2 separate regions of the Homo sapiens genome follow, and region 2 is linked to region 1. The links come from fine-mapping of genetic effects on gene expression. A gene starts in region 1. The other region holds a variant in brackets. All regions are shown on one strand. Distances are from middle to middle.

The links.
Region 2: its variant is fine-mapped to the expression of MIF-AS1 in sun-exposed skin (GTEx, PIP above 0.99).

What each region holds. Positions count from the first base shown.
Region 1 is chr22:23,897,402-23,900,324 of GRCh38, reverse strand. It overlaps MIF-AS1 (MIF antisense RNA 1), which reads left to right and starts at 1,395. Exons shown (of 3, transcript NR_038911.1): 1 at 1,395-1,481.
Region 2 is chr22:23,929,003-23,931,925 of GRCh38, reverse strand. It overlaps the pseudogene KLHL5P1. Among named protein-coding and RNA genes, the nearest start is that of GSTT2B, 31 kb to the left of the region's middle. The variant C/G (reference allele first, on the strand shown) is at 1,459.

The sequences.
Region 1 (2,923 bases):
ACCTTCCAGCATGGGTGTTATGGCCATCATGAACATGTCACAGTGCTGCAGAGATATTGTTTATGGCCGGTTTTGGGGCCAGTTTATGGCCAGATTTTGGGGGGCCTGTTCCCAACACAGAGACATGGTCAGTCTCTTCATTTATTTAGTTCTCCAATAACGTTCAGGGTGTTAGTTTTCTCTGTAGAGGTTCTCTGTAGAGTACATCTTGGATTTGTTTCTAGGTACAGGAAACTTTTTAAAAATATATTTTATATAGACCAGGGTCTCACCACGTTGCTCAGGCTGGTCTTGAACTCCTGGCCTTGGCATCCCAAAGTGCTGGGATTACAGATGTGAGCTACTGCACCCAGCCAGGAAATGTATTTTCTATTGCTCTCCCACAACTCCCACCACATCTTCTCCATCTGCATGAAATCATATTCTCTGTATGGTATCTGTAAAGTCATATCTTATTCTGAGAAATGTCCATTTCTGCATCAATACTCATCGCATGTATTCTAAATATACTTTGTCTTGTTTGTCTTGTATATAGGTTATTGTAGTTACTTGACCTGTGCCGAAATGTTAAATGTGTGTAAGTTCATGTCCTTCATTCTGGCTTTTTATTCACTAATAGTCATCAGCATCCTTACTGTCAATACAAGAGATGCTCCTTCTCAATATTTTGATATGGTAGTACAAGGATTCCAAAGGAGGAACCTTCTTTTTTAGCAGCTGTGTTTTTTGTTTTGGTTGGCAATTCACTAAGGACTCATCTCATCATGTTATGAGGGAGACATTCTTGGAAGCATGGCTCCTTTTCCGACTCTTCTCAGCACACAGCTGTCACCCATGCTTTGCTGTGAGATGGGGTGCCCTACAGATGGATGGGGTTTACAGGCTTAAGGTTACTGATGTCTTTTCATAAGACATTATTGCCTTGTTTGTTTGTTCTTCAGAAAACAAATTCTAGGGAGCCGGGGTTAATCTGTTCCATAGTCTGAATGTGTTACTGAAACACCAGGGGTTTTGTCTGGGTCCCATTGCATGCTGCACAGCCAATCACTGCCGGGAGGAAGGGCTTTATTCAGGTGCTGCAGCCAAGGAGAATGGGAGATAAGTCTTGAATCCATCTCCCTGACCGGCCAAAATTGGAGGGTTATATAACAGTGGAAGGGATGTAGCTATGTTTGGGAAGGAGTTAGGGAGGGGTAAGAACGCAGCCATGATGAACGAGGGATCCAGTGTCTCCCTGTCTGGATGCAGTGATCTAGTGAATTTGAGAAAGGATTACCCTGTGGAGGGAGGCAACAGGAGGGAGCCTTCTCTCTGGAGCCCCTGGGCATGCTTTGAATTTGAGCCATATAAATCTATTACCTATTAAACTGAGAAGAGAACTAGGTACGCAAGAAGCCAAGTCACTGGGGCGGTGGGGACGATACTTCTCATTTGTAGCCTTTCAATTTGGTGCTCTGTCTGGCTGTTTTGAGAGCTAAACTGTAAGTTGAGACCCCATAGTCACCAGATGAGGCCTGAGGTTCCAGGACTGAAGGGACAGAGTCGGTTTCTGAAACTGACAATCTCTGTTTCTTTTACATGGGCTTCAAACATAGAAATGAAGTGGCTTGGCCTCACTCGCCAGGAGGGGAAATCTGGGCAGTTGGCTGGTGGGTTGACATTGTCCCTCACACCAGTCCTGTAAATTACTCAGGAAGGCCCAGGCCTGGAGAACTAAGACTTGGCTTTCACTGCTTAGCCTGGAAAGGAACTGAGATGGCCAAAGAGGGCTTTATAGAAACAGTGTCAGTGGCCCAGAAATCCTGGAAATCTCCCAAGCTCCAAGGATCAGTTGATCTCTGTGTGTGTCTCCTGCACATAGAGAGCTCCACTCAGTTCTGTGGTCTTTGGGCTGGTGGCCCCAGGGGCCCCTCCCTTGGCACTTGTCCAGGTAACTGAAAAACCACTCTGATATGAGGGTTGGCCCTGCATTAATTTTATCTACTGCATTAGAGGCAGTAGGGTTGTCTCATTGCCTGCCCTGCCAGCTCCTGTGAGTGGTAGAGCCAGCCCTTCAGTGTGGGGCTGGTGGGGGAGCAGTTCCCAGTGAAGGCATTTGAGTTGCATCCCAGCAGGATACCACTCGTTTGCCCTGCTGCACAGACTGGCCTCACTGGCCTCCTAGCACTTCCCGGCTCCATCTGGAGACTTCTAAGTAGATACCTAACCACACTTCCTCATTGTCTCTGTCCCTGCCTCCCTATCCACTGCCATCAAGGCTGGCACATCAGGAACAATAGTGCCCTCCGAGGAAGGGGTGAGGGAGAGATTTCACAATTTATCAAGACCTGAGTGCAGGCACAGGCCACCTGCTGTCTCCTCCCTTCCCATGGCATTCCTTGGATTAACCGTGCCTCTGAGGATGTGAGATGTCCCTGTCATGCCTCCGTGATTGAGTATGTGGGAAGGACTTCTGATGAATCCCTTCATTTCACAGATGGGAAAAACTGAGGCCAGTAGAAGGAGCAGAGTGGGAGCCTGATCCTGATCTTGCTGGAATCGGGCTCCCAGAAGGGAGTGGGGTCTGGAGGCTGGCGGTGGGGGGTGGTGGGGAGGGAGTCTCTGCAACAAAGCAAAATTCCTGGAGGGGATGAGGTGGGACACATGCAGGGTGGGAAGTCTTGGGAAAAGCCTACATTGCTGGGCTGTCCAGAATGGACAAGTACCGAGGGGCCCCTGGTGCCACCAGCCCAACGGATCACAGAACTGGGTGGAGCTATGTCCAGAAATGGAAACCTCAGCTAACAGGACCTGGGCTGAAGCAAAGGGGCCTGTGGGTGTTGACCAGGTGGCCTCAGGGAAGGTATCCCAGAAGAATGGTGTGTGTGAGGCTTATAGTGGACAGATGGGGGACAGGCCTTGAACCTACAAAATGAGGTTCAAG
Region 2 (2,923 bases), 32 kb before region 1:
CTTGTTTTTTTAGACATTCAGTAAGCCCTTTCTCCCCCCTCCCCAAACCGTTTGATTACAAAGAAGCACAATGGGTTAACTGTGGCAAAACATAAGAAATAAGGCAGGGGAGGCAGGTGCAGCCTTGACAACATAAGAATATCCAAACAATGTTGTCAATATCAAAAGAAAAAATCAAAACATCTTTTATAATATAAAATAAATCCATATAATTAAGTACTAATTAGGTGAAATAACATTATAGGGTATATAACGTTTATTTTCTCTATTTAAATTTGCATATCTTAAATTTATTTGTTTTTATTTTATTTTTTCCTGAGATGGAGTCTCACTCTGTCACCCAGGCTAGAGTGTAGTGGCACAATCTCAGCTCACTGCAACCTCTGCCTCCTGGGTTCAAGAAATTCTCCTGCCTCAGCCTCCTGAATAGCTGGGATTACAGGCGTGCACTACCATGCCCAGCTAATTTTTACATTTTTAGTAGAGATGGGGTTTCATCATGTTGGCCAGGCTGGTCTCCAACTCCTGACCTCATGATCCATCTGCCTTGGCCTCCCAAAGTGCTGGGATTACAGGCATGAGCCACCTCGCCAAGCTGCATATCTTAAATTTAATGTGAAACATCATGTTTCAACTTCGACTTAAGAATATCATGACATACAGTTTTTGGTGAGTCTAGATGTAATGGAATGAATATTTAAATAGACTTCAAAGATTTTATCAAGGTTGTATTTGGTTATCATTGCTTTAAGTCTTTAATGCTTTTCTTTCTTTATTGGACTAAGCCAATTTTAGAAACAAAATCCACAACCAACACACATACAATGCCGATGTTTCTGAAAAAACTAAATAGTATTATGTTTAGTATATCATTAAAATAGTGATTGTGGTTAAACAAACAAGCAAACAAACAAATTACTGCAACTCATAGATGATAAACTTATAGAAAGCAACATTTTAGAAGTTCCATCTGGTGTGTTTGCACTGTAAGAAAATAAATCTGGATATGAGTATGTAGGGTCCAGCCCTACAGGGTCAGTGAGTTTTCTCCTCATGTGTGGAGATGAGAGAGTGTAGAAATAAAGACACAAGACAAAGAGATAAGAGAAAAGACAGCTGGGCCCAGGGGACCACTACCACCAAGATGCAGAAACCGGTAGTGGCCCCAAATGCCAGGCTGTGTTGATATTTATTGGATACAAGACAAAGGGGTAGGGTAAGGAGTGTGAGCCATCTCCAATAATAGGTAAGGTCACGTGGGTCATGTGTCCACTGGACAGGGGGTCCTTCCCTCCCTGGCAGCCGAGGCAGAGAGAGAGAGAGGAGAAAGAGAGAGAGAGCTTACACCATTATTTCTGCTATCAGAGACTTTTAGTACTTTCACTAATTTGCTACTGCTATCCAAAAGGCAGAGCCAGGTGTACAGGATGGAACATGAAGGTGGACTAGGAGCATGAC[C/G]ACTGAAGCACAGCATCACAGGGAGACAGTTAGGCCTCCGGATAACTGCAGGCGGGCCTGACTGATGTCAGGCCCTCCACAAGAGGTGGAGGAGTAGAGTCTTCTCTAAAATCCCCTGGGGAAAGGGAGACTCCCTTTCCCGGTCTGCTAAGTAGCAGGTGTTTTTCCTTGACACTGACGCTACCGCTAGACCAGGGTCTGCTTGGCAACGGGCATCTTCCCAGATGCTGGCGCTACTGCTGGACAAAGGAGCCCTCTGGTGGCCCTGTCCGGGCATAACAGAAAGCTCGCACTCGTCTTCTGGTCACTTCTCACTATGTTCCCTCAGCTCCTATCTCTGTATGGCCTGGTTTTTCCTAGGTTATGATTGTAGAGCAAGAATTATTATAATATTGGAATAAAGAATAATTGCTGCAAACTAATGATTAATGATATATATATAATCATATCTAAGATCTATATCTAGTATAACTATTCTTATTTTATATATTTTATTATACTGGAACAGCTCGTGCCCTCGGTTTCTTGCCTCGGCACCTGGGTGGCTTGCCACCCGCATGAGTAAGATGTGCTTGACTGAATAAATGAGATCCCCAGCTAGCACTGGGCTATGTTCCAGAGCAGTGCATCTGTCCTAATATGTTACATCAGGAATGTTTGTTCACAATCCACCAGCTGCAGGTTTTCATTTACTAAGAATTGAAAGCAATTAATCCTGGTCCATCCACTCCTTCCTCCGTTGTTTTACTATCTTTGCTTTGAGATCAGGTACTTTGTGCCCAGGATTGTGGCAATGCATGTTTACTAAAAATGCATCCATTGATGGTAGAATAATTGTACTAAATTAATAAAGGAAGAGAGTGTCTTCATGTAGAAAACAGAGCACTAAATTATAATTTTACAGTCACAGCACAAGCTCCAGCTCTTCCTAGGCACAGTGGAGCAACCCGGGTCCACTCTTTGTCTGGGATCATGAGCCTCCACTGTATTCAGGTATGCCTGTCCATCATACCTCCCAACAGCATAAAACTTATCAACAAGTAAACAGACCTCCACTGCATCTCTGCTGATGCTCATTGATTCTACTGTAGTCCACATGTCTGTTTTGGGATCAGATGTCTCCACACAATCTGAGAGTCTGGAAGTCAAGTTGGATGTGAGAGCATCATGTTCCCCTATAGCATACAGCAGTCCGCTCCGGGTCGTTACTCCTATGCCACCTCTCCTTTTTGACATCCGTGCACACAGTGTCCATGTTGGGGTGATCAGGCCTAACACCAGGCCGTGGGGGCTACAAAGTCTGGCGGGGTCAGAGGAATGTGAAAAGATAAGTTAAAAGTGCATAAAGTGGGTCCGGGGGGCCGGCACTAGATTGAAGGCTGCAAAGGCCCCGAGCTCTGGGAGCCCACACTATTTATTGGTGATCAAACAAAGAAGCAGGTGGTGAGGATGTGAGGGTAAACAG